Linked DNA regions of Homo sapiens. The protein of the gene in region 7 purifies or fractionates together with the protein of the main gene of each other region. This does not show direct contact. Each region holds a gene or a part of one and is shown on either strand. Other genes may lie near its edges. The genes, in order: FADS1, PKP4, CLGN, CTPS2, ZC3H4, ABCD1 and BACE2.

Region 1 (3,500 bases), on a different chromosome or scaffold from region 7:
CTTGGTCTTGGCTCAATAGAGCCTCACTGGTGTTTGCTCAGATTGGGCAGCCTATGCCCAAAGCTACTTGGCTAAACAGGCTGGTGACACCACACCCAAAAGGTGGCAAAGAATAGGAATAGGAAGGATCAGCACCTATTTTGGAGTGAGGAAGCCAATGGAGGTACAACTCCTCAATTCTAAGTTTTTGTTGTTTTTTTTTTTTTTGAGACAGGGTCTTGTTCTATCACCCCAGGCTGGAGTGCAGTGGTGTGATCTCAGCTCGCTGCAGGCTTGACCTCCTGGGCCCAAGTGATCCTCCTGCCTGGACCTCCCAAAAGTGTTGGGATTACAGGCATGAGCCACTGCATCCAGCTTGCTTCTAATTTTCCTACCCAGGCTGTTTTAAACCTAGTTCTCCAGCTAAGTAAAATGTGCCCAAATGGAAAACATCTAAATCTTCTGCAGCCCATTCTTCCTGTGTCTTTGTGTTGACAAACCTCTAATCTTCCATGTCTTTGTGTTGACAAACCTAACCTTCCATGTCTTTTTGTTGACAAACCTCTAACCTTCCATGTCTTTGTGTTGACAAACCTCTCCATGGGTGGTGCATCTGACCCTATCCCAACATGCCTTAGGACGCTCATCTCCTTGACTGTCTGCCATCCCCTCCCAAAACTAAGTGGAGGCTCTGTCTTTTCCTCCTAGTTTGAGGTTCTCTTCTCCCAGTGTCTAAAATGATCAATATGCCTAGAGTAGATGCTGCTGAAGAGGCAAAGTAGTAATCCTGCCACCTGGAAGCAAAGGCTGTGGGTTGGAGGGGGAAGCGGGTGTGAGGGCTGATGATAAGCCCTAGGAGGCTCCTGAGTCATATTCCTATGTTTGCTCTCTGGAGAGATGGGCTAAACTGTTTATCTTTTAAAAACCAGATGATTAAAAAGTTACATTTTAGTATTATACTGATAGGAATATAGGATAATCTCTTCTAAAGCCTATTTGGTTTCCAGAAGAGTTAGATACTTGAACAAGAGTGGACAGAGTAAGATACCTAGCTACAGCAATAGAAATCACAAACTGTTCTGTGGTTTTAATCTTCCTATTTCTGATTTAGAAGTATGAAGTGATCATATTTAATCTTTCTGCTCCTGCTCAAAAATAATTCTATAACATCATTTAGGTTATAGAAAGTTTCTACTTATAGCCCTTACATTCTTTATGACCGAAATCTGTGTCTTTCCTCATGACTGATAATTATCTCCCAATTTGGTCACTTCTGCTAATTGCTATTTTATTAAACTTGAAATTTTAGGTTGGGAAGCAAAGGGAAACCACTGGGCATCCCCTTTGTTTCTAGGGAGAAAAGACTAACTTGTCCCATCTGCTCACTTGCTTATGGAGCTAAAAGACCCCCAGTCCTAGAAGTGTTCTGTTCCTGAGGAGTGGTTAAAGAGGTGAAAAGAAGAGGTGAATTAAAAGATGAAAGAGCTTTTTAAATAGCCAGCAACTCTCTCTACCATCTGTTTTGGTAAGAGCTAGCACCTCTTGTTCTCTTTAGACCCTGGAGGGAATAAACCAAAATCAGTGGTTCCAGGATCCTTCAGAGCCAAAAGACCCCAATACCACAGTCTTGACCTTTGCCCTGCCTGCTTCTGAAACTGGAGAATGGCATCTCCCAGCAGCCTAAGGCAGACATAGGTCATACCTATCCCTGGGCAGCGAGCTGAGCTCCCACAGACTGAGTTGTGCTGGATCTCAGAATTCTAAGCATTAATGTTTCCTTGCTGTTATAATTCTTGCTCATCAGGTTCAACTGCCTTATCCCTCTGAGGTTTGCAAATGAGGATGGAGAAGCCACTGAGAAATGGACCAGTGAGCTGAGCTCACCTTTTATATGAGTGGATTTTTTTTTTTTTTTTGAAATGGAGTCTTGCTCTGTCGCCCAGGCTGGAGTACAATGGCGTGATCTCAGCTCACTGCAACCTCCACCTCCCCGGTTCAAGCGATTCTCCTGCCTCAGCCTCCTGGGTAGCTGGGATTACAGGCGCGTGCCACCACGCCCGGCATGAGTGGAATTTTAGTGTTAAATCTCTTCCTGACTCTGGGTTCAGTAGGTCCCTCCTCTTCTGTTACCCTCCTGGTTCTCTCTGTTCACCAACTACCTGCATGTGCCAAACTAGAAAAAGGAAATAATTTACACCCCTGCCCCAACAGCTCCTTCCCTCCTAGGGACTTCTGTGTCCACCCCCCACTTTGGGTCTTAGAACTGTGGCTAGAAGATAAAAGGGAGGAGTTTGAGTCAGAGGCTTTATGTCCCCAAACCCAACCCCCTCTGAGTATTAAACTATAGTGGCATTGTCCCTCAAGCTCCCCTCTGCCTTGGCTCCAGAGTCTTCCTCCTCTTCTTCCAGACTGGGCAGGGTGGCTGTTGTTATTGGTGAAGATAGGCATCTAGCCAGAGCTGCCCTGACTCCTTTAGTGAGCTGCAGGGACAAAATGGGGGCAGACAGTGAGGGAGACAAGCAGAGTTGAACCCACCGGAGATGGAGCAGTGAGGTTAAGGCCTTCTTCCATCTGGAGGTTTTCCTCCCCTCTACTTTAGAGAAAGCTAGCTTGGGCCATGGTACTGAGGGGAACCCCAATGAGGGCAAAGGCCTGACCTGGCCACAGGTCCAATAAAGAATCCTGCCTTTGCCATGGTGAACTCCATCCCACACGACTGGGAACACCTTCTGTTCACTCCCCACCCTACATGTCATCATTTCCATTGCCCTGCCCTCTTCCCTCCCTACTAGCCATCTTCCTGGTCTCAGATACTCACTGGATGATGTCGGCGAAGGCTGACAGCAGGGGCTTGGACTGGTACTCTATGCCATGCTTGGCACACAAGGACTGCACCAGGGGAGCCACTTTGTGGTAATTGTGTCGAGGCATCGTGGGAAAAAGACTTTAGGGAGAACGGGGGAGTCAGTGGTTCCTGCTTCTCTGCTCCCACCTGTACCCAACACTTACACCCTCCCCAGGACCCTGCTTCCCCAGGCTCCCTACTCACTGGTGCTCAATCTGGAAGTTGAGGTGTCCACTGAACCAGTCATTGAAGGCAGACTTGTGGACATTGCATGTGGCCTGGAGCTGGCGGAAAAGGTCAGGGGAGAGCATGTTGAATATCAGATGGAAAGGCCAGCCCAGCATTCTCCAGGTAAAGCTGGCTGAGGAAGGGACATGAGACTGTCTTGGTCACTCCCTTCACATGGTTGCAGAACAAGAGCCTCAGGCTAATGAGAAAATGCTGTTTGGGGGACTTTTTGTTTTTGCTGTTTTCACCTACGCATCCTTTTCAATAGTTGTGTTATGCTCCAGTCTTCTGAGTGACTGTCCCTTACCTGGGTGGAAACCCAGTCCATGTTCCGGTCATGATCAATGTGCATGGGAATATGGTTCATCTGTGTCACCCACACAAACCAGTTGCTTTCCAGGAACCTGTTAGATGTATTACACAGACAAAAACAGTACACACAGAGCCC
Region 2 (2,489 bases), on a different chromosome or scaffold from region 7:
CATAGCATAAATTATGAATAACTTGGAAAGTTCTTTTTCTTCCACCTACAGAGAAAAGATGACGAGAAGGAGAGGTCTTAGAACACATCCTTATCTGAAGGACAGGATACAGTCTTGTTTTAGGAAACTCCAGCTGCTCTGTGTCATTGAAAGGGAAGAGGAGAGACCAGATGGTCCAAGTTCGCCATGGCACTGGTAAGGACCTGAGACTGACTGCAGGCCCTTCATGAAAGCAAAGCCTGGGTGTGTTATAACCGCCAGTCCCACTCTCCCACAGTGAGGTCCATCCCGGCAGGGGCTGAGTCCACCTTGACCACTGAGACAAACAGACCTGGTGATGGACTCAGTGTTTTTAAATTGTGGAGCTTGGACAGGGAGGGGCGAGATGGAGAACGAGGTATACACAAAAGAGAACAATGTGATGAGGGCATGAAGTGTGCTTACCAACCTTCCCTCACTCAGAGGCTGGAAGAGATTTTAGAGCTTAACAGAAAAAGAGTGGGAAGAGGACACTGCTGGGCAAAAGACATGAACTAAAGACTTCTCGGCTGTCCCCATCAGTGGCACGGTGGTCTCAGCAGTACCGATGTGGATACTCAAGAACGTGAGGCTACCGTGGAAATGCTTTGCTTAAACCACACGTTGAGTTTCCAAGGAGTGAAGATCCCCAGGGAAAGCATCTAGGACCCTGCCATGTTGGCCCAGCTCTGGGAAGTCAATCGACGTGGACCCCTTACTGTGTTAACTGCTAATCAGCCTTCTGTAAAAATGATATTGCAAATTCACCTGTAGCCGTCTATTTTGTTCTCTTGCTGGTGAGGAATAGGAACTGATGTAAATTGGTGAAGGTTTGCTGGAGCCTGTAAGAAAATATTTTATGAAATTAAAACTAGTGCTTATTACTCTGGTCCATTAGGCTGGGTGGTCTCCCCTGCACTAGGGCTAGCACTGTCCCCGACAGGGCCTGTCTTCCCCAGTGCCAATGCGGGCTGGGAGAGGTAGCAGCTCAGGGTCCCTGGATCTGGCCTGGCTGCTGCTTACCTCAGGGCTGGTGGGGGCTAATGGCAAAACTATGGCAGAAACAGGCTGTGTGTGTTTCCCCAAAAAGCAATGCCAGTGCAGAGCCCATGCGCAAAGGTTCCTGCTCAAGCTCTGCTCACATGTGGGAGGGTTTCTCCAGCTGGCTTTGGACAGCAGCACGGGATCCTGAGCTGAGGAACACTCCTTTTCCAGGGCTCTGAGCTACGGCAGTGGGTCAGAGAGGAGAAGCGAAACACAATATTCGAACAAGCCCCATGCCTTCCAAACAAACAACTGGGATTCAAAATCTCAGGTCAAGGAAGGAGCAACAATGGAGGCACAGTCTTGTACCTGGCATATTTAAGTATGTTTTAATACAAAAGGAACTTGGTAATAATGAGATAATTGTCTTCAAAAGTCCATAGTAGACTCCTGATGATGTTACCCTTCCATTATTATTAAGGCTAGCAAAGATTTTTATTTTTTTAATGAGGAAAATGAAACGTAGTTGAGGCAAATTAGTTTATTGAAGCAAGCGAAGAAGATACAGAAGGGCATGCATGCTAAAGAGGTGATCTGTAAGATAAAGCAGGCTGCTGCAAATCGGAAGCAACCATGCACTTCAGTTGGTATGTGCATTTCCTTTTGCCCAGAGCTTGGTGTTGAAATGTAGCATCTGCAATTTTCTGAGCTATTAATTGCCATAGTAACAACAGTCGATTAGTAAATAGTCCTGTGAAATCACAATTTCAAAGACAACAGTACAATGGAGACTGCCCCCCCAGCAGGAGTAAAGCTGCCACCAGCTTTTATTTATTTTTAATAGACAGGTTTGAGAAAAGAGTACTTTTTGTGGGGTAGCTCACACTGACTTATTTGGAACATCTAAAGTAGTTATAATCGCCAGACGGTTGAGAATGGGAACAGTATGAAATCTTAGTAACCCTTTGGGCTGGTATCCTTTAAATAAATTGTATGCACAGCTTTCTGAATAGGATATAAAAATATTAACACTATGTAACATTATTTTTGTTATTCTTAAAAAATAATCACGTTGAGAAGAATCACATTATACCTTTTGCTATTTATTCAAACTCTTCTCCATGAAAATGTAAATGAAATTGATCTCCATTCTCTGGTTTGAATTTAAGAGATGAGCCAGTCTAGAAGATGTGGCCCCTGCAAAGTGACACTGGGCTGACGGTTCTGATGCATGTGGAAAACACAGAGACTGCTCGAGCCAGGAGGGGACGGAGCAAAGGGACTGTGCCAGTGAGCAGCCAGAAATGATTTATTTGGATACAGCCCTCTTTTTATTTGTGCCCACCGTACAACTACATACATACATACATACAAACAAGTACATGCTTGTTTTACTTTAAACAAGCAGAAAAGGCAACAATCCCCAAAGTAGGAAAGGGAATGACTGGAACATGGTTTGCTGCTGGGGGACTGTCTCAATACAAGCA
Region 3 (3,500 bases), on a different chromosome or scaffold from region 7:
CTTTTCTTTCTCCCCCTGATTTGGTCATATTATATTTTTTTGAAAAAGATTAATGTACTTGGTTTTCTTTCTCTCACATTGATGGTGAATTGTATTATCACTAACTTGTAGTTTGCCTCTCGCCCCCTATAAAGGTCTTATTTTAAGAAGTAACAACTTTATCTGGAAGTCCTAGCCAGCGCAATCTGGCAAGAGAAAGAAATAAAGGACATACAAATTGGAAACGAGGAAGTCAAGCTATCACTGTTTGCTAATGATATGATTGCATACCTAGAAAACCCAAAAGACTCATCCAATAGACTACTAGACTTGAAAAATCAATTCAATAAAAGTCTCAGCTTACAAAATCAATGTACACAAATCAGTAGTACTGCTACATAGCAACAACGACCAAACTGAAAATCAAATCAAGAACTCAATGACTTTTACAATGGCTGCAAAAAAAAAAAAAAAAATCCCTAGGAATATTCTTAACAGAGGTGAAAGATCTATCTATACAAGGAGGACTACAAAACACTGCTGAAAAAAATCATAGATGACACAAACAAATGGAAACACATCCCATGCTCATGGATTGGAAGAATCAATATCATGAAAATGATCATAGCGCCCAAAGCCATCTACAGATTCAGTGTGATTATTGTGAAAATACCAAAAACATTTTTCACAGAATTAGGAAAAAAAATCCAAAAGTTCATATGGAACCAAAAAAGAGCCTGAATAGCCAAAGTAATCCTAAGCAAAAAGAACAAATCTGGAGACATCACATTACCTGACTTCAAATTATACAGGGCCATACTATCAAAACAGCATGGTAATGGTCTCAGGTAGACACATAGACCACTGGAACAGAATAAAGAACCAGAAATAAAGCAAAATACTTACAACTAACTGATCTTTGACCAAGCATACAAAAATATAAATTAGGGAAAGGACACCCTATTTAATAAATGGTACTGAGAAAACTGGCAAGCCACATATAGAAGAATGAAACTGGATCCTTACTTGTCACCTTATACAAAAATCAACTCAAGATGGATTAAAGACTTAAACCTAAGATCTGAAACCATGAAAATTCTAGAAGATAACACCAGAAAAACTCTTCTAGACATTGGCTTAGGCAAAGAATTCATGACCAAGAACCCAAAAGCAAATGCAACAAAAACAAAAATAAATAAATGGGACCTAATTAAACTAAAAAGCTTCTGCACAGCGAAAGAAATAATCATCAGAGTAAACAGATAACCCACAGTGTGGGAGAAAATATTAATAACCTATGAATCTGACAAAGGACTAGTATCCAGAATCATGAGACTCAAACAAATCAGCAAGAAAAAAATTAATCCCATCAGAAAGTAGGCAAATGACATAAATAGACATTTCTCAAAAGAAGATATAGAAATGGCCAACGAACATGTTTAGAAAATGCTCAACATCACTAATCATCAAGGAAATGCAAATTAAAACCACAATGAGATACTACGTTACCCCTGTAAGAATGGCCATTATTAAAAAGTCAAAAAACAATTGGCATGGATGTGGTAAAAAGGGAACATTTATACACTGCTGGTGCAATGTAAATTAATACAGCCTCTATGGAAAACAGCATGGAGGTTTATTAAAAAACTGAAAGTAGATCTACTATTTGATCCAGAAATCCCACTACTGCTTTTTCTGTGCATATGGTGGTGTCCTTTTTGGAGTTGATAAGCATATATATATATATATATATATATACACACACACACATATATATACACACATATATGTGTATATGTATATATATTTGTGTATATATGTATATATGTGTATATATATACACAGGGGATTTGCTGGGATGGCGAACACCATGCAAAGGAAGACATGCAGGTATGATCTTTATCTTACACTAAACAGAAACTATGAAAAGGAAGCAGACAGCTGACATCCAACATGCTATCTGTTTTGCTGTTGTGATGTAACTGCTTATCAGAGTCTGAGTGCAGGGCCACATGTTTATGAGTATGAGGTCCTCTGAGAAAGAAGAAATTACCACTATCAGTCACTGTGAGAAGAGGCTGATCTTGCTTCAGCATATAACAATCAAGGAGGCTGGTTTTTAGACCACAAAGAAGAAAATATTTGGTCATACTCTAGGGTAGTCCTATTAGGGAAGACAATATGACCCCTGCCTATAGGACATTTCTTTCTAGAGCTAAGGTTGAAGATAATCCTATTAGACACCCTATGATAATGGATATAGACCTGGAGATGAGGATTCCAGAAGCAGCCACATATCTTGTAGCTCTCATTAGCTATCTTCTGCTTTTTACTTGCTAGGAGAATCTTACCATAAATTATAATTTATTTAATTTATAGATCAAGGTGTGTCTATGCTTGAGATGAAACCATAGAGACAGCAGTAGCCTGGGAAATACTGCTTCAGGAAATGCAAAAGACTAACAGCAGTAGAGTGAAAATTCAACTGTTCAGTTAGAAAACTAGATTAACTGGCTTAAGAGTGAGATTTTCAGAAATAGCGAAGGGTTTTTCAGAAATATTGAAGAGGGACAAGATAAAAGACTGAACATTTTATTGTGAGGCAGGGTGGGGGACTCCAGCCAACACAATTTAACAAAAATCTAATCTCAAAGTTTAGTGAACTCCAGGCCATACTGGTTATATCTAATACTTAAATAAATATTTTACCATCGTATATTGAAATTTCCTCATCCATGTCATCTTTCTTTGCTTTTGATAAGACCCATCTGTAAATAAAGTTGAACATACATATATGTCATTGACAATAAAAGCAGCAATTTATAGATATAAGGCATACAGAAACACAATAAAAGATCACCCAATACAGTCACTTTTCATTCAACAATAAATTCATACTTAGATGCTAAATAAGGATGCCTACACATAATCCTGAAGGGCTAGAGTTAAACCGAATTTGGAATCTATAATTTACTAGCTGTATGATCACAGGTAAGGTACAAGAAACCTCGGTTTCTCCACCTGTAAAATGGGGATTAAATATGGTAATTATCTACTTTTTTTAAGGACATCTGACACATAATAATCATTTAATATTAACTTTTGTTTTTTCCATTATTTAGAGTAGAGCAGTACTCATATTTGTCATCTGAACTTAAGAGTGTTAATCTGTCCTAGAGAATAAAGAAATGTTATAAATTTCATCTTTGCATTCGGAATTAGTATATTTTCTTTGAATAAATAACTATTCAAATTAAACATTCTATCAATTACAAAAATATACTAAGTACTGATTTACATTGTCAATTAAACTACTTTAAAATTTTTTATAGATCTGTAGTAGAGATAATTTTCATAGGCCAAAACCTAATAACTTCAAAAAAGCTAATAAATCAAAGAAAACATTCTCTTGAATGAATACTCACCCAGCCAACCTTCCACTATCAAAAGTTTCTGCAAAATATACTTCTCCTATAGGTTGAGGTGTCTTATATTTAATCTAGAAAAGAGATTTTCCAAGT
Region 4 (3,500 bases), on a different chromosome or scaffold from region 7:
TCCCAGCACTTTGGGCAGCCAATGCAGGCAGATCACTTAAGATCAGGAGTTCGAGACCAGCCTGGCCAACATGGTGAAACCCTGTCTCTACTAAAAATAAAAAATTAGCCAGGTGTGGTGGCAGGCACCTGTAATCCCAGCTACTTGCGGGGCTGAAGCACGAGAATCACTTGAACCTGGGAGGCAGAGGTTGCAGTGAGCCCAGATCGTGCCACTGCACTCCGGTCTGGGCAACAGAGTGAGACTCCGACTCGAAAGGTAAGAAAAATTTTGGCCAGGTGCAATGGCTCATGCCTGTAATCCCAGCACTTTGGAAGGCTGAGGCAGGCGGAACACCTGAGGTCAGGAGTTTGAGACCAGCCTGGCCAACATGATGAAACCCTGTCTCTACTAAAAAATACAAAAGTTAGGCTGGGCATAGTGGCTCACACCTGTAATCCCAGCACTTTGGGAGGCCAAGGCGGGTGGATCACCTGAGGTCAGCAGTTTAAGACCAGCCTGGCGAACATGGTGAAATCCCATCTCTACTAAAAATACAAAAATTAGCCGGGCGTGGTTGTGGGCACTTGTAATCCCAGGTACTCAGGAGGCTCAGGCAGGATAATTGCTTGAACCTGGGTGGAGGAGGTTGCAGTGAGCTGAGATCGCACCATTGCACTCCAGTCTGGGTGACAAGAGCGAAACTCTGTCTCAAAAAAAAAACAAACAAACAAACAAACAAAAATTAGCCGAGCATGGTAGTATGCGCCTGTAATCCCAGCTACTCGGGAGGCTGAGGCAGGAGAATCACTTGAACCTGGGAGGCGGAGGTTGCAGTGAGCTGAGATCACGCCACTGCACTCCAGCCTGGGCAACAGAGTGAGACTCTGTCTCAAAAAAAAAAAAAGAAAAGAAAATGTTTTAAAAAAGAAAGTCTCCTTTCTAAATTTATAGATCTTGTGATTTTTAAGTTGACAGTCATAAGGAAAATTTATTTGACTTTTCTGCTGCTTTCTGATTCAAACCCTTTTGTTTTATAGGAAGCCCAATAACTTGATTTTCTTTACTTTGAGTACTATTGTTTTTCCCTTGAGTGTGTACAGGGGCCTTCTGCTCTTGTAATTTCACCATGTATGTGAAAGTAGACCATAAACAGTATTATTTGTGTACTCATGGCAGGCAAATGGGCAACTGAGTAAGACCACAATATAAAATTACAGTTACAGAAAAAGAAAAATAATGCCAGGCATGGTGGCTCACATCTGTAATCCCAACACTTTGGAAGGCTGAGGTGGGAGGATCTCTTGAGGTCAGAAGTTCGACACCAACCTGGTCAACATAGTGAGACTCCCTCTCTACAAAAGAAAAATAAAACATTAGCCAGGTGTGGTGGCACACACCTGTAGTCCCAGCTACTGGGGAGGCTGAGGCAGGAGGATTGCTTGAGCCCAGGAGGTCAAGGCTGCAGTTAGCCAAGTGATTGTGCCACTGCACTCCAGCCTGGGTGACAAAGCAAGATCCTGTCTCAAAAATAAAAAGAGAGACCAGGTGCGGTGGCTCATGCCTGTAATCTCAGCACTTTGGGAGGCCAAGGCGGGCGGATCACCTGAGGTCAGGAGTTCAAGACCATCCTGGTCAGCGTGGCGAAACAATGTCTCTACTAAAAATATAAAAAGTAGCCGGGCGTGGTGGCGTGTGCCTGTGGTCCCAGCTACATGAGCTGCATGGGAGGCTGAGGCAGGAGAATCACTTGAAGCCGGGAGGCGGAGGTTGCAGTGAGCTGAGATCACACCACTGCATTCCAGCCTGGACAATAGGGTGAGACTCGGTACCAAAAAAGAAAAAATAAAAAGAGAGAGAGAGAGAGACAGTAACTAACAAAAGGTAATAACTATAAATTTCACTTTCATTTGTAATTTCACAATTTTTTTACATACTTGGAAATTCAGCACAAATGCATTCGGGTAGGAACAATTTCAGTTACCCACTTCTTATTTGTCCTCCTCAAAGGAATGCCCATTCTGATTTTGTGGTTTCCTCTGCTTACCTTTCAAAACAAACTATCTTAACTAAAGTTATCACACGTCAGAGCTGTGAATTCCATTTGAACTAGCTGACCATGGTCAGGCTGAGTAAACTGAAGCTATTCAAAATATACATGTTCCATCCCAGATGGCCTCCCTAAGTCCCTGGGCCTACCTTTCTCTACACAACACAGTTGATCACATTCAATGCCATCGCACATCTTCACTAGTCACCAGGGCACCCACCTATCTGACCTATGTTTATAGCTTAAAACATTGTCAATCCAAACCCAGAGCCAAGATCACACCATTGCACTCCAGTCTGGACAACAGAGTGAGACTCCGTCTGAAATAAATAAATAAATAAATTATATATATACATATATTACATATATAATGTTTATTTGAACATCTATTACATGCTTGACATATTTCCAAGTCCTAGGAATATGGAGATAAACAAAAAGACAAGGTCTATGTTCCACTGGACTTCACCTTTCCTGCAGGATTAAGGGGCAAATAAACTGTGCTTTAATTATACCTTATTCTGGCACTGTTATACTGTTCAAATGACTCTCTTTGTAAAAGTTACCGAAATGGAAAAATGCCGTAGAGGTATGGTGAAGAAAACTGGCATACATTCGTACAAGTCACATTATGCCTAATAAATTTTTGTATAAGAAAATGCTTCTTTGGGAGGCTGAGGCAGGCGGATCACCTGAGGTCAGGAGTTCGAGACCAGCCTGGCCAACATGGTGAAACCCTGTCTCTACTAAAAATACAAAAATTAGCCAGGCGTGGTGGCAGGCGCCTGTAATCCCAGCTACTTGGGAGGCTGAGGCAGGAGAATCGCTTGAACCCGGGAGGCAGAGGTTGTAGTGAACCCAGATAGCACCATTGCACTCCAGCCTGGGGGACAAGAGCGAGACTTCGTCTCAAAAAAAAAAGTTAAAAAAAAAGAAAATGCTTATGTGGCCGGGCACGGTGGCTCACGCCTGTAATCCCAGCACTTTGGGAGGCCAAGACGGGCGGATTGCCTGAGCTCAGGAGTTCGAGACCAGCCTGGGCAACATGGGGAAACCCCATCTCTACTAAAATACAAAAAATCAGCCAGGTGTGGTGGCGTGCACCTGTAATCCCGGCTACTCAGGAGGCTGAGGCACGAGAATTGCTTGAACCTGGGAGGTGGAGGTTGCAGTGAGCCAAGATTGTGCCAGTGCCCTCCAACCTGGGCAACAAAGTAAAACCGTGTCTCAAAAAAAAAAAAAAAGGAAGAAAGAAAATGCTTATGTTACCTGAAAAAGAGAGCAGACTATAAAATTGAATATATTATTGACTATGTTTTTTTAAACTAAGATCTAAATTTTATTTGTCACCACTAAGATTTCCATCTTATGGCCGGGTGCAATGGCTCACGCCTGTAATCCCAACACTTTGGGAGGCCAAGGCGGGCGGATCACAAGGTCAAGAAATCAAGACCATCCTGGCCAACATGGT
Region 5 (2,545 bases), on a different chromosome or scaffold from region 7:
AAGAAAAAGAAAAGAAAAAAGGAACACCCAGCCTGCCTCCCCTTGCCCCCAAGTTCCCTACCCTGGGTGCTGCCCTGAATGCCACCCTAGGAAGGGTGGCTGGAGCCGCAGCTCTGGCTGGACACTACTGGCAAAAGGGGGAGGCCGTGGGGTCGAAGCCTTTAAAAACATCCTTCAGGGATGCCGCATCCTGCTCACCCTCGCGGGCCGGACTGTTCCCAGCAAATGGGCTTCCTGAGCCCGTCTTGGGTGTCTGCTTCACCGTCCCGAAGAGGGTGGGCACGGGCAGGTTGTGCACCCCGGGCTGGGGTGGGGCACCCTCGGGGGGTGGGGTGGCGGTGGTGGCAGCGGGGGCTGCAGCAGCCTTGGGCCGGGGCCGGTTGTAGCTGTTGTATCTGTCCGTGGGGGTGCCCCCATCAGCACCGGCCTTCCCTGTCTCTGGCTGTTCCAGGGCAGACTTGCGGACGAACGGGGGCTCCTTAGCCTTGGAGGCCGAGCTCTTGCCATTGCCCTCAGCACCCTTGGGCTGGGCACCCGTGTCAGCAGCCGGCTCTGTGGCTTTGCCCCCCGCGTTGGGAGTCCTCGGGTCGTAGAGGCTGATACCGCTCAGCACACTGCTCTGCCCGCCCCCTCCGCCCTGGCCCAGTCCACCGGCCGCCAGCACGCGGGGGTCGTAGGGAGCGGTGGCTGGTGGGGAGGCATCCCCACTCGGGCTGGCGGTGGGAGAGGGCGCCTCAGCAGGGCCGGGCTTGGCAGCCCGGGAGGAGGCCGTAGAGTCTGTGGGTTTCTGCAGCCGAGGGTCGGTGGGGGCCTTCCGCACCCGGGGGTCACTGGGTTTGTCGCTGGAACCGGGGGCGGCCGAGGAGCCGGTGGCATTGACTGTCTTGAGGATGCGAGACAGAAGTTCAAAGTCGGGGAGGTTGGCGCCCTGTGTGCTGGAATCCGTGGAGGCGCCCGGGCGCTGCCGGGCGTTGGGGGGCCCTGCCGTGGCAGCGCGGTGCAGCCGGGGGTCCAGGGTGGGCATGGATTGCAGGGCCGCGGGCACGGGGGGCACTGCGTCCTGCTTGGGGATGGGTAGGGGGATCAGGTCCTCGGGATTCCAGAGCACGGTGCGGGCGAAGCTGGGCTTGCTCAGGGTCACGTCCTTCTTGATGTGGCTGAACTGCTGCAGCTGTGACCGTGGGTCCCGCAGAGGGTGCCCGGGGAGTGGGTCCAGGGGAATGTTCACGGCCTTCTCCCGCAGGGCCCGCTCCCCTTCCTCCTCCTCCGTTGGGGGCGGCCCAGACCCCTTGGAACTGCTGGGGCCCACAGGGCTGGAATGAAGGCTGCCTTCGGGCTTGGAGGTGGGCAGGGCGCGAGCCAGCCGAGGATCGGAGGGTCCCGAATCACCTGGGCCAGACCCGCCAGAAGCCTCCACATGGCGGGTGAGTCTGGGGTCCCGGCTGAGGCGAGGGTCAGCCAGCCGGCTTCCTGTGGGGTGTCCCTTCTGGAGGCGGGGGTCCCCCAGCCCACTGCTGCTCAGCTCCCCAACTGAAGCCGGGGGTCGGCTGGACGTCTGCTGCCTCAAGGTCTTCAGGATGGAGGTGACACTGCTTCCACCCTCATCCTCATCACTTGAGTACCAGTTTCCGGTGTCACCTGGGAAAGAACAGAGGAGCAGGGAGGGGTGAGTGGGCGCATCCACCACCCGCCCTCTTGGATCCCACAGCAGCCCACCGTGAGCAGCTCCTTTGCTTGTGCCTCTCAGAACCTCAGGTCCTCCTCTCTAAGGCTCCCTCCCCACAGTGGGCGGCTGAGGAGACCCAGAGAGCTAAGGCGCTCGGTTTATGCCATGCTCCCCAGCTCTCCTCAGTGGCGGCACTGCACTAAGTAGTTTGTTTTATTTAAATAACTCACAACCACCCCAGGAGGTAGTGATACTATCATGCCCATTTGACAGATGTGAAAACAGAAGCACAGTGCCGTTACATTGGAGTCAGGGCCAGGATCGGGCTAGGACTCCTAACCCAGAGCTCTGCTGTTTCCTCCCGCCCACCTCCGGGCTGGTTCAGCCCCCACTGTGGCAAGTCCAGCTGTGGGCACCTCTTTCTGGAGGTCCTGGTAGCAGACACCATTGACTCAGTTCTGGCTGGGCCTGGGGCTCAGAGACACTTGACCCCAAACCGGCTCGTGATGTCCCCATGTCCCAGGGAGGGGCTGGTGTGGACCAACCGCAGTCACCAGCTGATAAGAGGCAGGGCCGGCTGGGCAGACTCAGACATGGGCTCAAGCAAAACCTAGGCCAGTACAGCCTGGGCCATCAGGGGAGCGGCCCCTCCTCCTGCTGTCCCACTGGCTCCTGCGCTACAGTCAGGGCCACCTGTGGCCTCTGGCTTCAGGATCTAGACACCACTTGTCATTTTACCCCAAAGTGGACACCACTAAGTCAACCATGCAGCAACTGAGACTCGGTGGCTCGTGACTATGATTATTACTGGTTAATTTCAATGACTAGCTCTTGTTTGTTGGCTCCTTGAGAACACGGTAGGAAAACAGGGGCTGTGAG
Region 6 (3,500 bases), on a different chromosome or scaffold from region 7:
ACAAATTGTCCTCCCTGAGTACCCTGTGTTTCTTTTTTTCTGGGTACTTTGATCACTTTCTTTCTTTTTGGCATTCTGCAGTTTCACTATGACATGTTTAGGTGTCAGTTTTTGTTGATTCTGCTTGAGACTTGTTATATGTCCTTTGAATATTTGAGTTTTTCAATCATTCTGGAAGATTCTCAGCTATTAGCTTTTCAGATATTGCCTGACTCTCATTCTTTTTTCCTGTTCTTCTAGAACTGGCAGCCAGTGCTGGACTTCTGACTCTCTTCGTTGTGTCTTTCGGTTTCTGTTTACTGTTTCCCATCTCACACTGTCTGTGCTGAATTCTGGGGATGCCCTGAGGCCTTCCTGTTTGCTCATTTTCCAGTTCACCAGTTTTCTCTTTGGCCATGTCTAATTGGAATTTTGTTCACATTTCAGTGGCTGTTTTGTAAGTTCTATTTCATTCTATTTCAAATAGGAATTTGAAAATGGACATTTCCTTTTTCAAGTAGAAATGTCAGGCTGTTTCTGTGTCTTATTTGCTCATCTTTTTGACTGCTCCTTTTATACTGTGTATCAGGTTAGTCATACTTACCCCACCGTCTCTATCTGATGGTTTGGTTAGCTTCAGTTCTTGGGAGTATCATTCGCCTGTCTTCTGTCTGCTGGTCTTCACTCATGGTGGATCATTTCCTTGTGGGTTTTGCAACAGAACTTCTATGGGGATTGGTGTGGCCTCAATGGAGGGTGTAAGTCCAAATGTCCTTCTGTTTTGGCCAAGCACTCCAGGGTAAGCAGTTGGAGGCCATTAGTTAGTGCGGAGGGGATGGTTCCTGAATTGAGAGGTGGTTTCATTTGAATTCATTTGAACTCCAGGCACATTGTTACAAATTTTCAGAGGAGGCTTTTTGTTCATTGGGCATAGAGCCCAGGCTAAGCAAGGAAAGCTTCCTGGTCTTTGCCCTGCCTGCCTCTGGGGCTATCAAAGGATCACCTGGCTGTCTGCTTCTCTTTGCTCCCAGAAGTTTCCCTTGCTTTCCGTCAAGCTTGGCTCTGCTCGAAATAGTGTCGTAGTTTACCCAGTTTGGTGGGAAGAGGGTTTTCGATTTATAAACAGAAGTCTGATTCTCTCCCTGTTCCTGTTTCCACCTCGGGGCTTCCATGCCCTCAACTGTCTGTGTCATCCTCTGGGTGACTCACCAAGAGGAAGGATCTAATTCGGGGACTGCACATCAAGGGCAGCCTTGATGCTGGCGTAGGTGCCCAGCCCAGTCAGCGCACCTAGCCCCGGGCACCGAGACAGCCCGCGAGACAGCACCTGCAGCCGCTTCGCTCCATGGCTGCCATTGGTCACATCGGGCTGCTCCCTGCCCTGAAGGCTTAGGACTTTTCTGAGCCTCTGCTGTGCCAGGCTTTGTGGGCTCCTGGCCCTGCTCTGGTGGTCCTCAGAGCCAGCAGCCTTTGAAGGCTGTGAAGCATTCCCTTTCCCCTGGCTTGATAGGCTCTGTCCTGTGGCCGTCTGTTTTTTTTTGGAGGGGGAGCTTTTGAGATGGAGTCTCACTCTGTCTCCCAGGCTGGAGTGCAGTGGCACGATCTTGGCTCACTGCAACCTCCATCTCCCGGGTTCAAGTGATTCTCCTGCCTCAGCCTCCCAAGTAGCTGGGACTACAGGTACACGCCACCATGCCTGGCTAATTTTTGTGTTTTTAGTAGAGATGGGGTTTCGCCATGTTGGTCAGGCTGGTCTTGAACTCCTGACCTCAAGTGATCCACCTGCCTCGGCCTCCCAAAGTGCTGGGATTATAGGTGTGAGCCACTGTGCCTGGTCCTGTGGCCTTCTTATTTCCCCAAATGCCAGGCCTGCTCTGTCTTGGGGCCTGTGCCAGGAGCACTCTTTCCTCTGCTGCCCCATGGCGCAGCCCCCCTAGGCAAGGCCCGGCCTGCCCACCGCCACCTTTCCTGTCTCCTTCCCTGCCCCACTGCTCTCCCAAGCACTCGACACCCCGTCAGTGGCGCTTTTCTCTCTCCCTGCCATGGACTGCAAGCTCCATGGGGTCAGGGATTTTTGTCTGTTTTGTCCCTGCTGTGTCCCCTGCATCGGGTGGCTAGTGAGGGCTCCAGGTGCTTCAAGGAGGTGGAGCGCACTGGGTGGGAAGGCAGGCTCTTACCGGTTGGAAGATTTAGATAAGCTTTGCTGGGCTGGTGTGCAAGGCAGGTGGGCTCAGGAGATGGGCAGGGCCTGTGGCTCCCACTCCAGCCCTGAGGCCTTGCTCTGTCCAGCTCTGGGGCCCTGGCCTTATTCACCCAAGGCTCCAAGAGAACCTGCAGAAGGCAGCTGGTTCTACGCCAGGATGCCCTGGGCACAAAGACTTGCAGACCCTTCCCTTTGTCCACAGCGACTGTCCAGCTCTCAGAACACCTGGGGAGGAGGGCTGTGTCCTTGAGAGCACCGTGGGAAGGAAGGTCCAAGGCCTTCGACCTTTAGGATTCACATCCCCGCCCCGCCAGCCCAATCTAGTTCCCTGGTTTCCCGGGCCAGGCCCCTTTCCACCCTGCATGGCCCTGAGCGGATACTGCGTTCCGTGTCTTCCCCCAGCCCCCAGCCAATGATCCCTGAGGCTTCCCCCTCAGGATCACACCCACCCCTGGATACAGTCCTCGGGTCCTTCACAGGACATTCCCACCACTTCAGCCACACCCCAGCACCCTCAGAGGCGGCCTTCGCCCTTGCTCCCCACCTCTGCTCCTGTGGGGAATCTAAGGATCAAGAAACTGAGAGTCAAGGCCATTGATGAGGGTCAGGGGTGCTGCCACGGGGCCTAGAGTGTGACAGAAAAGCAAATTAAGACAGGAGCAGCTCCTGGGAGAAGCAGACACCAAACAATACGGCTGCTGGCCCAGAGGTCAAAAACCATGGCCTAGAGGGGGCGGTCAGGAAGTGGGACATTAGGCCGGGCGTGGTGGCCCATGCCTGCAATCCCAGCATCTTTGGAGGCCAAGGCAAGTGGATCACCTGAGTTCAGGAGTTTGAGACCAGCCTGGCCAACATGGTGAGACTTCGTCTCTACTAAAAATACAAAAAAAATTCGCTGGGCTTGGTGGCGGGTGCCTGTAATCCCAGCTACTCGGGAGGCTGAGGCACAAGAATCCCTTGAACCTGGGGAGGCAGAGGTTGCAGTGAGCCAAGATCACACCACTGCACTCCAGCCTGGGCAACAGAGCAAGACTCCATCTCAAAAAAAAGAAAAGAAAAAAAAAAGAAAGTTGGCGTTTCAAAGCCAAACAGCTCTGGGCGTTGGATGACAAAGTTCAGATGTGCCCCAGGAGGGGCGACATCAGTGGTGCAGGACAGAGGGCCGGTGGAAGGAGCTGGCTGTACGTAGAAACAAAACCAGATGCCTACTGGTGCATTTAAAAATCAACGTTATTGAGACGTAATTAACATACTATACAATTCTTCCTTTTCCATGTACAGTTTAAATTCATTCACAGAGTTGTGCAGCCATCATCAC
Region 7 (3,500 bases):
TCTCAAGGGTACAGCTTGGTTACATCCCCAGGCCCCAGGCTGATTCTCCTGCCATCATACTGCAAGCCTTCCTGTACCACTTTGACCCAGGTTGAGGTCTGGCGGAAAATAACCTCAAAGGCAATTAATACAAAAAGCTTCCTGTAAGCTAAGAGGGGTTATCAACTATATGTACTTATTTTTCCAGAGATTGAAGAGAGAAGAGAACGAGCCAAGGCTTGGTTTTGTTTTATGTTGGTGGCACATGTAGACACTTTGGCATAACGAACCCCATAGAGCCTGCAGCCCAATCCACTCTGTTTTGGTTTAGAATGAAGTTTTTTTTTTAATTATTTTTCTTGGAAGTAGGGAGGATTTGAAAGCTTGAAAATCAAGAATCAAAAGACAGTGAATCTAGAAGGCATCTGGGAGCAGAACAGAGATTGAAGACGGGTGGGCACAGGAGAAAGCGCCACCATCGATCCCGGCTGCTGCCCTGGAAATGTGATTTTCTTAATAGCTGAGTTCATGGTTGCTTGAGGTCAGGCCTGGCTATTCATTTCCAGCGATGTCTGACCAGAGAGGACTCATCATTGACGACCTCAGGGTCACGGGGGCGACGCTGACACCGGAACGGCAGCAGCAGCAGGACGATTAAGACAAGGAGGATGGCTCCACAGACGCTCATGAGCGCATAGGACACAATCCACAAAATGGGCTCGCTCAAAGACTGAGCGGGGACACAGTTGCTGGCTACATCCTCTGTTGAGAAAGGCCCGGAAATTTCAGACACTGCAGCACCTGCAATTTCTGGGGAGACAGAAAGGGAAAATCCACAGCTGTGAAATGAGCGGTCCACCTCTCACATTGGACACAGACAGAACCCCTTGGTTTATTAAACCACAGTTAAAGTCCACTGAGGTCCCAGTGGCTTAGACAGCTCAGGAAGCACTGAGTGGGGTCACGGCTCAGCGTGCCTTTGGGGGTCCAGTCCCTGCAAACTGGAACGACGGCATGTTTTAAGGTGTGTGGGTACCGAGCCTAGGTGTGGAGGGGAACTGCAGCAGGGCACATATGGAAGCACCCTGTGCTTCATGGAATGCCAGCGACACTGCGGTACTACACAGGTGAGAGTGCAGGTCAGCACCTGGTCATGACAGCTGTGTGGGTTGTGCTTCCTCAGTGGAGATGAAAAAAGAGGAGAAAGAGAAGGAGAATTTACCGCAGAAAGCTCAGCTGGACCTGCCTACGTCATGGGGAATTTTCCCCAGTGGAGTCAACCTGAGTTCACTCCCTACCATGGATTCTACAACAGATAGGGACCTCATATCAACCTGACTCATAGTCTTAGTGGGTTGTGAGACCTCCGGGGGTCAGGCTGGCTTGAGAGACCCTCCCTGCCCCACTCTTATCCTAGGTCTCATCAACAGCCAGGAGCAGTAAGTGAATGCAACACCTAATTCATGACATCACTGGTGACAAAGAGAAACAGTTAAAATTCACCCGGTGACTTCTGCTAGAGACTCTTGAATAACTTCAAACCAAGAAGGAAGTTGAGATGATTTCTTAAAGCCGGTTTGTGGATTATCTGTAGACTTCCTTTGCCTACACTAGGCTTCTCTGCCCCTTTCAGGAATATGGGATCTTAAGCTTTACTTGCAATACGGAAAAGAAATAGGCCTCATTACCCATTTTTCCTATATTTAATCACAGAAATGAATATTTTGGCACCAGAAAATAACACTGCTAAGAATTTGATTTTTCTGTAACTAAAGCCTCAAGATCTTCAGAGCTGCCAAATAATACCCTTTTTGACTGAGGAAAGAAAAAGTCAAAATAACAATGCGATAATGACCTGAAAAGAATGGTTTTAAAATCAGAGGAAAACAGGCTTGATTACTTTGCAAAGTGACTGCATTTTCTTGCTAATGTGGATTCTGTCATAATATGGCTTTCCTAAGTGCACTGAAAAAGAAAGGCAATGAACAAGAGCCTGCCAACACCGAGAACAGAGGGATGCACCCTGCAGTCAATCTATACTCCCATTTCCTGGTTTGTAGATAATGATCTTCTTGCTGTGTCTTTACATGGTGGAAGAGACAAGGGAGCTCTCTTGGACTGTCTTTAATAATGGGCAGTAATTCCATTTACAAAGAAAAGCTCTGCCCTCGTGACCTAATCACCTTCCAAAGGCCCCAACTCCAAATATCATCACCTTGGAGATTAGGTTTCTGTTGCGGGAAGTCAGGGACCCCGAACGGAGGGACTGGCCAAAGCCATGGCAGAAGAACATAAATTGTGAAGATTTCAGACATTTATTAGTTCCTTAAATTAGTACTTTTATAATTTCTTACGCCTGTCTTTACTGCAATCTCTGAACATAAATTGTGAAGATTTCATGGACATTTATCACTTCCCCAATCAATACTCTTGTGATTTCCTATGCTGTCTTTACTTTAATCTCTTAATCCCATCATCTTCCTAAGCTGAGAATGTATGCCACCTCAGGACCCTGTGATGATTGTGTTAACTGCACAAATTGTTTAAACAATATGAAATCTGGGCACCTTGAGAAAAGAACAGGCTAACAGCAATGTTCAGGGAACAAAGGAGATAACCATTAGGTCTGGCTGCCTGAGAGCCGGGCGGAACAGAGCCATATTTCTCTTCTTTCAAAAGCAAATAGGAGAAATATCGCTGAATTATTTTTCTCAGCAGGAACAGCCCTGAGAAAAAGAATGTGTTCCTAGGGGTAGGTCCCTGAAATGGCTGCTCTGGCAATGTCTGTCTTTTACGGTTGCCGATAAGGGATGAAATAAGCCCCGGTCTCCCATAGCGCTCCCAGGCCTATCAGGACAAGGAAATTTCCGCCTAATAAATTTTGGTCAGACCAGTTGTCTGCTCTCAAACCCTGTCTCCTGATAAGATGTTATCAATGACAATGCGTGCCCAAAGCTTCATTAGCAATTTTGATTTCGCCCTGGTCCTGTGATCTTGCCCTGCCTCCATTTGCCTTGTAATATTTTATTACCTTGTGAAGTATGTGATCTCTGTGACCCACACCCTATTCGTACACTCCCTCCCCTTTGAAAATCACTAATAAAAACTTGCTGGTTTTGCAGCTCAGGGGGCATCACGAACCTGCCGACATGTGATGTCTTCCCTGGACACCCAGCTTTAAAATTTCTCTCTTTTGTACTCTTTCCCTTTATTTCTCAGACCGGCTGACACTTAAGGAAATAGAAAAGAACCTACGTGAAATAATGTTGAATTATCGGGGGCAGGTTCCCCCGATAGGTTTCAACATAAGAATTTTGGCAGGACATAAACATTGATTCTACAGCACTAATTATGCAAAGAAGCAGGAAAACACAGTTCATAATAGGGAGCAAAATCAATCAATTGGAACTTAGTAAGAAATGGCACAGATGATAGAATTAGCAGGCAGGATATCAAGATATTTATTATAACTGTATTCTACTCAGGATGCCAGAGAAAATGTTAAACATGTTAAATAGAGA

Evidence for each region.
Region 1: the proteins of BACE2 (region 7) and FADS1 purify together in Homo sapiens (affinity purification with mass spectrometry; one large-scale study listed by BioGRID and IntAct). This does not show direct contact.
Region 2: the proteins of BACE2 (region 7) and PKP4 purify together in Homo sapiens (affinity purification with mass spectrometry; one large-scale study listed by BioGRID and IntAct). This does not show direct contact.
Region 3: the proteins of BACE2 (region 7) and CLGN purify together in Homo sapiens (co-immunoprecipitation; one large-scale study listed by IntAct). This does not show direct contact.
Region 4: the proteins of BACE2 (region 7) and CTPS2 purify together in Homo sapiens (affinity purification with mass spectrometry; one large-scale study listed by BioGRID and IntAct). This does not show direct contact.
Region 5: the proteins of BACE2 (region 7) and ZC3H4 purify together in Homo sapiens (affinity purification with mass spectrometry; one large-scale study listed by BioGRID and IntAct). This does not show direct contact.
Region 6: the proteins of BACE2 (region 7) and ABCD1 purify together in Homo sapiens (affinity purification with mass spectrometry; one large-scale study listed by BioGRID and IntAct). This does not show direct contact.

Annotation. Positions count from the first base shown.
Region 1 is NC_000011.10:61,800,004-61,803,503, forward strand, and holds part of FADS1 (acyl-CoA (8-3)-desaturase), read right to left. Parts: intron 3,457-3,500; coding exon 3,360-3,456; intron 3,109-3,359; coding exon 3,029-3,108; intron 2,924-3,028; coding exon 2,798-2,923; intron 2,460-2,797; coding exon 2,408-2,459; 3' UTR 1-2,407.
Region 2 is NC_000002.12:158,676,952-158,679,440, reverse strand, and holds part of PKP4 (plakophilin-4), read right to left. Parts: intron 861-2,489; coding exon 787-860; intron 196-786; exon of another isoform or gene 52-195; intron 1-51. UniProt on the Homo sapiens protein: Plays a role as a regulator of Rho activity during cytokinesis. May play a role in junctional plaques.
Region 3 is NC_000004.12:140,407,149-140,410,648, forward strand, and holds part of CLGN (calmegin precursor), read right to left. Parts: intron 3,479-3,500; coding exon 3,405-3,478; intron 2,748-3,404; coding exon 2,689-2,747; intron 1-2,688. UniProt on the Homo sapiens protein: Functions during spermatogenesis as a chaperone for a range of client proteins that are important for sperm adhesion onto the egg zona pellucida and for subsequent penetration of the zona pellucida.
Region 4 is NC_000023.11:16,706,170-16,709,669, forward strand, and holds part of CTPS2 (CTP synthase 2), read right to left. Parts: intron 2,350-3,500; exon of another isoform or gene 2,250-2,349; intron 1,329-2,249; exon of another isoform or gene 1,240-1,328; intron 1-1,239. UniProt on the Homo sapiens protein: Catalyzes the ATP-dependent amination of UTP to CTP with either L-glutamine or ammonia as the source of nitrogen. Constitutes the rate-limiting enzyme in the synthesis of cytosine nucleotides.
Region 5 is NC_000019.10:47,066,232-47,068,776, forward strand, and holds part of ZC3H4 (zinc finger CCCH domain-containing protein 4), read right to left. Parts: intron 1,639-2,545; coding exon 125-1,638; 3' UTR 1-124. UniProt on the Homo sapiens protein: RNA-binding protein that suppresses transcription of long non-coding RNAs (lncRNAs). LncRNAs are defined as transcripts more than 200 nucleotides that are not translated into protein.
Region 6 is NC_000023.11:153,731,356-153,734,855, forward strand, and holds part of ABCD1 (ATP-binding cassette sub-family D member 1), read left to right. Parts: intron 1-3,496; exon of another isoform or gene 3,497-3,500. UniProt on the Homo sapiens protein: ATP-dependent transporter of the ATP-binding cassette (ABC) family involved in the transport of very long chain fatty acid (VLCFA)-CoA from the cytosol to the peroxisome lumen.
Region 7 is NC_000021.9:41,272,660-41,276,159, reverse strand, and holds part of BACE2 (beta-secretase 2 isoform A preproprotein), read right to left. Parts: intron 790-3,500; coding exon 536-789; 3' UTR 1-535. UniProt on the Homo sapiens protein: Responsible for the proteolytic processing of the amyloid precursor protein (APP).